3 linked regions of the Homo sapiens genome follow. The protein of the gene in region 2 purifies or fractionates together with the protein of the main gene of each other region. This does not show direct contact. Each region holds a gene or a part of one and is shown on either strand. Other genes may lie near its edges.

Region 1 (3,500 bases), on a different chromosome or scaffold from region 2:
TAAGAACCTCGATAGCAATGCGGTCGTGATCATGGTGAATTACATCTTCTTTAAAGGTAAGGCCCTTGGGCCCAAACCTGCACTTTCTTTGGCTTTTCTGCTGCTTTTATCTAAAGAATACCCAATTCCCTCACATACATAAAAGACGGGGAGTACGTTAAGTTCTTTTGGGTGCCTGTTGAGAAAAATTAAGTAAACAAGCAGCCAGAGAAGGTAAGATGAATGCCTTCTTGCTGTGGATGGGATTAGTGAGGCTGAGATGCTGTTTCCTCCACGGAGGAAGAGCTGGTTGCTGTCTTCGGGCCCCTGGGGACATCTGAAGCCCCAGCTTTCTACAGGCTCTGAAGTATGAACCCATTGTGGCCACCATGGCAAAGACACCAACACCTTAGCCACTCAGGGCAGGACACAGACCCCAGAAGGGCTTAAAGGGCATTTCCCAGTCCCCCGTATCCCTCAGATCTTGGCCCCTCTGCCCTCATAGAGGCCAAGACTCCCTCAGACAAATGCTTGTTCCTCTGAAATGCCTCCTCCTGACTCCTCAGCAAGAGCTGACCTCTGCTTATCTCCCCGACACTCCTTGTAAGCATTCCTGCTCGCCTCTGCAGCTCCTGCCAGTTGCTGACCCTGGGGAAAGCAAGAGTGGATAGAGAGGAGAAGAGAGGAGAGGAGAGGGTGGGAAGGGTTGCGAAGGAAGGTAAATTGTTAACACCTCCCCTTCCTATGGTCACAGATCATGAGTATCTTTGGCCATTTGGGTGGCTATAACAAAATACCATAAACTGGGTGGCTTAGCAACAACAAACATATATTTCTCATAGTTCTGGAGGCTGAGAAGTCCAGGATCAAGGCACTGGCAGATGCAGTGCCCATTCCTTGGTTCATAGAGAGTGCCTTCTTAGTATATCCTTGCTGGAAGGAGGAAGGCAGCTCTCTGTGGTCTCTTTTGTAAGGACACCGATCCTGTTCATGACAGCTCCACCCCCATGACCTAATCAACTCCCAAAGGCCCCCTGTCCTAATACCACCACCTTGGGGGTTAGGTTTCAACATATGAACAATGTGGGGACACAAACATTGAGACCACAGCAGTGAGTGTCGAACTTGGACTCTGAGATTTCCTATCCCCTGGTGCAGGGCAGTCCCCATTACACCAGATTGCTGAGGGCAGCTGGGAAATAAGCTAAGGACGGTATTGACTGGGGTCTTCCTTCGATAACGATTAAGAAGTTGGAAACAGGCCAGGCATGGTGGCTCACGCCTATAATCCCAACATTTTAGGAGGCCGAGATGGGCAGATCACCTGAGGTCAGGAGTTCGAGATCAGCCTGGCCAACATAGTGAAACCCCGTCTCTACTAAAAAATACAGAAATTAGCCAGGCATGGTGGTGGGCGCCTGTAATTCCAGCTACTTGGGAGGCTGAGGCAGGAGAATCACTTGAACCTGGGAGGTGGGGGCTGTAGTGAGCCAAAATTGCGCCACTGCACTCCAGCATGGGTCACAGAGCGAGACTCCATCTCAAAAAGAAGAAAAAAAGAAAAAAAAGAAAAAAAGAAATAAAATAAAATAAAAAGAAGTTGGAAACAATCACTTGTAGCGTTTTGTTCAGAAGTTCCCATAGGAAGGTCAGAGAAGGGTCATTGAAGACTTCCCAATGGGAAAAACCATTCATTTCCAGGATCCATACTAACTTCTTTCTAAAATTTAAATCAAAATATTGGAATGAAAGTGCAAACAGAGAAGTTCACCCAGATATCAGGTAGCATTCACAGCCAGCCACATTTTTCACCCTCTTCACTTGGAGATTTGGTCTTGAGTAAAACGTTAGAGAATCAGAGAACATCAGGGGTCCAGGGCCTCTGAAGATGTGAAAACCAACCTCCTTGTTTTGCAAATGTGGAAGGAAAAGTCCCACGAAAAGTCCAAGAATGTGCCCAATGTTATAAAGAGACTTGCCTTCATATTCAAGAGGTTCAACAGTCACTGCTCTGGGGCTGCCATAAAGATGGTCTCCGCTGGCTATCTTTACTGTCTTCACTCCTTTTATTTGCAGCTGAGAATTTCTAATTCTGACACAAAATTCTTTTTCATTTTTCCCTTTTTTCATCTTTAGCTAAGTGGGAGACAAGCTTCAACCACAAAGGCACCCAAGAGCAAGACTTCTACGTGACCTCGGAGACTGTGGTGCGGGTACCCATGATGAGCCGCGAGGATCAGTATCACTACCTCCTGGACCGGAACCTCTCCTGCAGGGTGGTGGGGGTCCCCTACCAAGGCAATGCCACGGCTTTGTTCATTCTCCCCAGTGAGGGAAAGATGCAGCAGGTGGAGAATGGACTGAGTGAGAAAACGCTGAGGAAGTGGCTTAAGATGTTCAAAAAGAGGTACTTTCAGACTACCCCAGGGCCAGCCTAAACCCACACAGCCCCAGGGAGACACACACGCCCTACCAGGGCCACACAGCACTGGTGGGAAGGACTCACCCAGCCAAGGAGCTGCCTCCAGGCCCAGAGGCATCCTGTGACATCCAAGTCCTGGGGGCCTAGCCCAGTTGGAGGGACAAGAGCTGGAAACTGGGTTCCTTAGGGTGGTGCCAGAGTGGGCAGAGACCTCTGGGCAGCCCACGTCCAAGTCCAGAGCAAGGGGAGGCTCATCCTAGAAAAGAGGCCAGAGGAGCCATAACCACCATTGTTCCTTGGGTTAAGGAGTCCTTTTTTAAAACCATCAAAACTAAGAATCCAGTGCATTATGAATCCAAGGGGTGAGGCTCAGTGTGCCAATGCCCCAGAACAGTCTAAGAAAGCTCCTTTTCCCTTTCCAGGCAGCTCGAGCTTTACCTTCCCAAATTCTCCATTGAGGGCTCCTATCAGCTGGAGAAAGTCCTCCCCAGTCTGGGGATCAGTAACGTCTTCACCTCCCATGCTGATCTGTCCGGCATCAGCAACCACTCAAATATCCAGGTGTCTGAGGTGGGTTCAGAAGCTCCTATGCATCTGCTTCCCAAGGTCTATTCTGTTCTATTCTTTCTATTCTACTCTACCCCATTTCATTCCATTCCATTCCACTCAACTCCACTCCACTCCACTCCACTCCAGTTCACTCTATTCAATTCCACTCCACTCCACTCCAGTTCACTTTATTCAATTCCACTCCACTCCACTCCAGTTCACTCTATTCAGTTCCACTCCACTCCACTCCACTCCAGTTCACTCTATTCCATTCCACTCCATTCCACTCCTCCACTCCTCTCATCCACTCCACTCTACTCCTCCACTCCACATCTCCACTCCACTCCTCCACTCCACTCCTCCACTCCACTCATCCACTCCACTCCTCCACTCCACTCCTCCACTCCACTCCTCCACTCCACTCCACTCATCCACTCCACTCTTCCATTCCACTCCATTCCACTCCTCCACTCCACTCTTCCACTCCACTCCATTCCACTCCTCCACTCCACTCCACTCTATTCTATTCTATTCCATTCCATTCTACTCT
Region 2 (3,731 bases):
GATGTGTAAATTTAGAAAATTTGTGACATTTACACATCAATTTTTTTTCAGTACTTATTTCTTGTTAAAAACAATTTGTGGGCCGGGCACGGTGGCTCACACCTGTAATCCCAGTACTTTGAGAGGCCGAGGTGGGCTGATCACCTGAGGTCAGGAGTTCGAAACCAGCCTGACCAATATGGTGAAACCCCCATCTCTACAAAAAAAAAAATACAAAAAGTAGCCAGGCGTGGTGGTGCATGTCTGTAATCCCAGCTACTCAGGAGGCTGTGGCAGGAGAATCGCTTGAACCTGGGAGGCGGAGGTTGCAGTGAGCCGAGATGGCACCACTGCACTCCAACCTGGGCAACAAGAGTTAAACTCCATCTCAAAAACAAAACAAAACAAAACCAATTTGTGTTCTGGAATAGGAAGAAAATAAAGTTCTTATCAATCATGAGTACACTCAACCTGCCTTTAAGTATGATTCCCTCTCATTAGCCCTATAAGGGAAGTGATTAATGTTTTAAATGTTAAAAGTTTTTAATTTGTGTACTTAACGTGCCCTCCCACCCAAAACCAACAAAAACAAAAACCCTGTCCTTCTCAGAACTCAAACAAGCTCTATTCAGAATTCTGAAAGGTTTATTAAAGTCCCTATAAAAACGGTCACTGATAGGCTGAATTTCTGAATAAGTCTGAGAGTACAGAGACCAACAGTAATTTGGGAAAATAAATCAGAATGCTAGGAAAACAACACAAAACACACACTAAGGATCTGCTAGCATCAAGTTTATGTAAATAGATGCTAAAAAGCTATACTATGTTTAACTGGGCTAATCAGAGCTTCCAATGTCACTGATAACCCATGCAAATATAAAAGAATTATACTTGAACCTCTAGTATACTTAGAAGGGGAAATTTCTTTCTCATCAGAAACGGTCACCTGAAACTCACGAAGACTGCTTGAGCATTTAATATTACCTAAACAAGGCAAATAAAGAAAGCAAAACAAAAAATACTTCCAGTTTTTAATTCATGTATTATACTTTTTTTTTTTTTTTTTTTTTAAATCGAGACAGAGTCTTGCTCTGTCGCCCAGGCTGGAATGCAGCGGTGTGATTTTGGCTCACTACAACCTCAGCCACCGCCTGGGTTCAAGCAATTCTTGTGCCTCAGCCTCCGGACTAGCTGGGACTACAGGTGCGTGCCACCGTGCCCAGCTGATTTTTTTGTATTTTTAGTAGAGATGGGGTTTTGCCATGTTGGCCAGGCTGGTCTCGAACTCCTGACCTCACGTGATCCTCCCACCTTGGCCTCCCAAAGTGTTGGGATTACAGACGTGAGCCACCATGACTGGCCTCATGTATTATACTTAACCCACTCCACCTGCTGTAAAACCACAAACAAACAAACAAACCCCAATACCAAAAAACTAACTGTCCCACTCAGAACTCAAGCAAGCTCTAGGCACAACCTACCTTTGCCCAAGTTTGATTAGTTTCCTTCTACGTGTGCCTTAGTTTAAATAAAGGTACAACTTAACTTTCCTAGTAAAGCGAATATTGAAATGGCAGAGAATTCTGCAAGACTTATATAACCACATATCTTTTCCTATATAATGGGAAGGGTATGGGGTTAGGAGATACGGGTTCTAGTTTTGGCTCTAGTACTAACCACTTCTGTGGGTGGCTTTAGGCAAATTACTACACTTTCCTGGGACTATTGCTGTGCCTATAAAATAAGGGGTTGGGTTAGAGGAGCAAAGTTTCTTCCAGTTCTGACATTCTGGGACTCTGTGACAGTTAAATGTGCAGTGACAAGAGAAAACATTTTTATGTTGCATTTGGTCCCTTTTTCCGAAAGGATAGAGAATTGTTTTTATAACAATTAACAAATAAATTACTCAACACAGTAATTATTCTTCCTAACTACTACTTATTGAGCACCCAACATGCATTATTTCCAAACTTCACAGCAATTCTGCAAGGTCAAGTAATACCACCAGTTTACAGGTGAGGAAATTGGGCCTTAGAGAGATTAAGTAACCTGCAGAAGTTTGCCCATCAAGGAAATGCTAGGGCTAGAATTCAATCCCATATCTGCCCAGTTCCAAAGGCCATGTGCTTTCTGCTACACTAAGTGCTTCCTTACAGGTAAAATCATACATTTTCCCTTCCCAGGATCGTTCTCTTTTACTGTTAAAGAAAAAGCACTTACCTTTTTCAATTTAGGCAGCTTGGGGAGATTTGAAACTGAGATCAAGCCTACATTTATTAAACTGAGGAACTCTAAGTTCACAAATTCAGCTGTTAAGCCCTCAATTTTTCCATCATTTGATTTGCAATTGTCCAAGACAAGTTCTCGAACCTGTGGATGACAAAGAAAAAAGGATAAGCTCTCAAAAACACATTGAAAACAAACAACAATGCAGAAACTTCTACCATAAATATCCTGCAAAAACACCCATATATACAGGCAGCCTCTTACTTAGACCTAGATCATAGTTATAAAAAGATAAAAACTGATTAAGCCTTCAGTAACAATATACTGACAGGTTCAAAGATGGAATATTATTCCATGGGTATAAACACTTACGCTCTTTGTTTTTCCAGAAACAGAAACTATACTTTTTAAGATATAAGTGAAGTAAGCGTATTCCCCTTATTTCTTTTCTCCAGCCTGTTCCCCAAAGGGCAGCTTTTATCTAAATGCAAATGCAGAATGAAGACACTCTTTAGGCTGGGTCTACCTTAAGGCCCAGAAGATGACCCCTGGAAAAGAGGAAAGCTTTATGTTTCCTATCAAGACCACTAAGAGATTCTGGCTAGAGGTTTCTGCACCAACGCACTTTCCAACTCTGGTTTTAGTAATCTTTGCCAAGATTATCTTGACACTGGGAAAAAAAATCAGGATGCAAGAGTCCTTAATTCAAAACAAAGATCAATCTGGATTGCACTTGAGAAAGATGTTTCTAGCAGAGAACTGCTACATAATAAATTAAATTGCATTTTCAGGCTACACAGTCTCTTTTTCAGAATTTAAGTCCATCCAAGAGTATCACATCTGGCCGGGCGCAGTGGCTGACGCCTGTAATCCCAGCACTTTGGGAGGCTGAAGTGGGCAGATCACCTGAGGTCTGGGGTTCAAGACCAGTCTGGCCAACAAGGTGAAACCCCCTCTACAAAAATACAAAAATTAGCCAGGCAAGATGGCGAGTGCCTGTAATCCCAGCTACTTGGGAGGCTAAGGCTGGAGAGTCGCTTGAACCTGGGAGGTGGAGGTGGCAGTTAGCCGAGATTTCGCCATTGCACTCCAGCCTGGGCAACAGAGTGAGACTCCATCTCAAAAACAGTATCACATCTGATGATTTGAACTTTTGAATATTGATTATTTAATAGTCTACATGCAGATCCACCACAATAATCCATATTGCCATTCTTGCTCTATGATCATCCTGAAACTTGCAACTTTTTAGCTCACTTTGATCTACTCACAGTGATGCAAATTACCATTTTAACTGCACCAACAAAGGCATTCTTTTAGTGAACCTACCATATTTAATAGCATTAATCAAGCATGTATACAGTAGGGAGATGCTGACAGTCTGAAAAGAGAAGAGGAGCTATTAACAGTGTCCTCATCCTCTCATACAAAATCCAATGATGCTACTCTAGTAATTGCTATCAATTATAGAGTACTTAATCATTTATTCTTTTTACCACCACTCTCCTTCCCCCATTTACAGAGAA
Region 3 (3,731 bases), on a different chromosome or scaffold from region 2:
ACAAAGTTTCCTATTATTTTGAGATACAATTTAAAGGAATTTGCTTTGTTCTTCTCCAAGTATTGATGGACTCTTCTATCTTAAATATATATATATAAATTTAAACATAAGCTTCAGCCAGGCGCAGCAGCTCACACCTGTAAACTCAGCGCTCTTTGGGAGGCTGAGGTGGAAGGATCACTTGAGCCCAAGAGTTTGAGACCAGCCTGGCCCAACATAGTAAGACCTCATCTCAATAAAAAATAATAATAATAATAAAGGCCAGGAGCAGTGGCTCACACCTGTAAACCCAACACTTTGCTTTGGGAGGCCAAGGTGGGCAGATCCCAAGGTCAGGAGTTCAAGAGTAACCTAGCCAACATGATGAAACCCAGTCTCTGCTAAAAATGCAAAATTAGCCAGGTGTGGTGACGCATGCCTGTAGTCCCAGCTACTTGGGAGGCTGAGGCAGGAGAATCACTTTAACCCAGGAGGTGGAGGTTGCAGTGAGCCAAGATCATGCCATTGCACTCCAGCCTGGGTGACAAGAGCGAAAGTCCACCTCAAAAATAAATAAAATAATAATGATAAAATAAAATAAAAGTAAGCTTCATCACACTCACCGTGGAAGCCAGCATTGATCCTCCAAACCAAACTGCATATCGCTGCATGTGGTGTGTAATGACTTGTACATCAATAGGTTTTGGCTAAAGAAAGACATAGTATGATCATCTTCATAGTAAATTCAAATAACAACTTCTGTGTCATTTAACCTTAAATGTACATATACAAAAATAATATCTGTACTAAATTCAGGTGGTATCTTACAAACCAGAAACAATTGAGATTGGCTGTCTCAGAGGAAAGGGGTTGGGAACACTGTGGAAGAGACAGGGAGGGAACAGAGCAGAATAAATGGAAGGGAAATAACAATGAGCACATGTTTTATACAGTTCTGACTTTAAGAATCTAAATGTTAGTGTTTTACATACTAAAAAATAACACCTTAAAAGAAGGGGAGGTTGGGGCAAAACAAAGTACAACAAAAACAAATTAAACTAATTGTACTTTTTTCAAACATAAGCACACTAAGGTGAGGAAAGGGACTAACACAAGCAACTTGTGAGCATAGTATTTTGAATCTTATAAGCCTTCAGGCTGAAGATAAAATATAAGCAAATATTGAATTCTAGTTTTGGGTCTATTTTTCACAGTGGTGTGGATTAACAATTCTGAAACTATCATATACATATTCCAGGATTAAGCAAAAACATAAACATATTATAGATAATAGGAGCCAGGTTTCTCACTGTCAGAGAAGGGCATTACAATATGGAAGGGCAGAAAACTAGAGTGAACCTTCTATAACTGGAGACGTCTGTAAAAATTCATGGTTTTAATTTATGTAGAGAATTAGATATAGATGTATAAACACACACACACCCCTAGCTCTAATCACTGAGAAGGCCTAGACTCAGTGATACCCCAACAGCAATGAGCACAAAGCTTGGTTTCTTAGTAACGTTCTCCACTAACAGGAATAAGACAAGGGTGTCTTGAAGAAAGAAAAGGAGAAAAAAAGGGCTGATTCCAGGGCCAGAAAAGAGAAAGTACAAGATCAGCCTGAAACACCTTGCTGTGCCGGGAAGTACAGAAGTAGGCAAAAAAAAAGATGTGGCTGCATCAAAAAAAAAAACCTAAGAGCCATTTGAATAACTCCCACTGGTCAAATCTGAAAAAAAAAAAAATGTGGGATTAAAATTAATGATGAGTGGTATTACTGATATTATGATATTACAGTGATATTAAAGATATAGACCACAAAATGAGAAATCAGGAGTTCATATAGATATTACTAAAAGAATAAATGAATGTGGGAGAAGGGAAAACTCTTGCTTATAGTAAAACAAGTCTTAAAAACATAGAAGGAATGACAGAAATTGCAAAACTCCATTTAGCAACTACCACAGTAATAACTGTTTTAGGGAAGAATCACAATGGATGCTAAAAACTAGTGACTGAAACTTAAAAGAGAAACAGGATAGTCTGAAAGTGTCTCCTCATTAGATTCTTATTAAATATAAAGGAAAACATAATAACTTTATAGTGAAAAAACCTGGCAGACACAACTTCAACCAAAAGCTCAAAATTCACACACAGGACAAATTCTATCATGTGTCTACTGATACAATGCACTAAAAATGATACAATATCAATTCTGTGGCATCACTGCCAAAAGTACATAATCTGAACCTACTCAAGCAGAAATATTAAACAAACCCAAGCTGAAGGATATGCTACAAAATAAATGGCTGTACTCTTCAAAAATGTCACATTCATTCATGAAAGACAAAAAACATTGAGTATGTAACAGACTGAAGCAACACAATAAGTAAATGAAACATGCAATCCTTGATTGGATCCTGGATAAGGGGGAAGAAGGTATTTTGTTTTCCTTTTGTTATAAGGGACATTAGTGAAACAACCGGTAAAATTAGAATCAGTTCTATAACTAGATAACACTGGATCAAGGTTAATTTCATGATTTTGATAATTGTAATATGTTCTTGATTTTAGAAATATACTAAAATGTTTGGGGATAATGAACCATCATATCTACAATTTAGTGTGTGTGTGTGTGTACACACACCTATTTATAGAAACAGAATGATATGGCTTTTTTCAAAACTGTTTGGTTGCCATTAAAAATTACAGACTGAAGGAAAATAAAGCCAGAGATAGATAGATAAAGGCATGCTATTAAGATCTATAAAAGTTACTAGCAAGTAAAACTAAGGTGAAGAAGGCAGAGTCCTCCAAAACACAAGGTTTTTCCTATACATGATGAGCATCCCAAGTCTGAAAATCCAAAATGCTCCAAGATCCAAAAACTTTTTGAGCACCAACATGATGTTCAAAGGAAATGCTCAGAATTTCAGATTTTTGGATTAAGGATGTTGAACCAGTATATAATGCAAATACTCCAAAATCCAGAAAAACTCAAAACCTGCAACACTTCTGGTATGAAGCAATTCAAAAAAGGGACACCCAATCTGTTTCTTTCAATATGTCGATACGGTACTGATCACTGGGTAAATTTATTTCTTATTTACAAGTGTAAAAAGAGCTTAAAAATGTTAAACAATCTCACTTTTTTAAAATACTATACTCAGAAACATACAGCATTGTTTTGTACTTATATATCTGTAATGAGTTATTAAAAACTAAACAGCTACTTTAATACATCCATAACCATACCATTAGGACAATCAACTTCAATCTTTTAAGTATTCTAACAAAAAAACCAGAACATGCACTATGTTCATTCACATAATCAATGTGGTTAGTAGGATTCTCAGTACAGAGAATTTATACTTGCAAAACCCAATGACTTCTTTTTTAGGTAGGAGGTAGGGTAGATAGATATGTGGGTAAGGGGAGTAGACGGATGGGCAAATGAATGGATGAATGGGGGTGGGCTGGTGGTTTGGTTGGTTGGGAAGGGGATGCAAAAGCAAACACAACATTTTAAAAGTCTATTGAGTAGACTTCCTGAAGTGTGAAGTCATGACATTATAGGGACAGAGTTCAATATTTTGCCTTCCACCCAAAACATATACTTTTTACTGCATTCCTAGGGATAGGTTTACTCAAGATAATCAAAATATAGGCACTGACAACAGTCAGCCATCATGCAATTTCTCAACAATCAGCAAACCCTAGAGTGCTGTGCTTTACTTTTAAGTAATTCT

Evidence for each region.
Region 1: the proteins of ANP32B (region 2) and SERPINA5 purify together in Homo sapiens (co-immunoprecipitation; one study listed by IntAct). This does not show direct contact.
Region 3: the proteins of ANP32B (region 2) and ACTR3 fractionate together in Homo sapiens (co-fractionation; one large-scale study listed by BioGRID). This does not show direct contact.

Annotation. Positions count from the first base shown.
Region 1 is NC_000014.9:94,587,926-94,591,425, forward strand, and holds part of SERPINA5 (plasma serine protease inhibitor preproprotein), read left to right. Parts: coding exon 1-56; intron 57-2,115; coding exon 2,116-2,386; intron 2,387-2,823; coding exon 2,824-2,971; intron 2,972-3,500. UniProt on the Homo sapiens protein: Heparin-dependent serine protease inhibitor acting in body fluids and secretions. Inactivates serine proteases by binding irreversibly to their serine activation site. Involved in the regulation of intravascular and extravascular proteolytic activities.
Region 2 is NC_000009.12:97,993,249-97,996,979, reverse strand, and holds part of ANP32B (acidic leucine-rich nuclear phosphoprotein 32 family member B), read right to left. Parts: intron 2,350-3,731; coding exon 2,200-2,349; intron 1-2,199. UniProt on the Homo sapiens protein: Multifunctional protein that is involved in the regulation of many processes including cell proliferation, apoptosis, cell cycle progression or transcription.
Region 3 is NC_000002.12:113,952,578-113,956,308, reverse strand, and holds part of ACTR3 (actin-related protein 3), read right to left. Parts: intron 687-3,731; coding exon 603-686; intron 1-602. UniProt on the Homo sapiens protein: ATP-binding component of the Arp2/3 complex, a multiprotein complex that mediates actin polymerization upon stimulation by nucleation-promoting factor (NPF).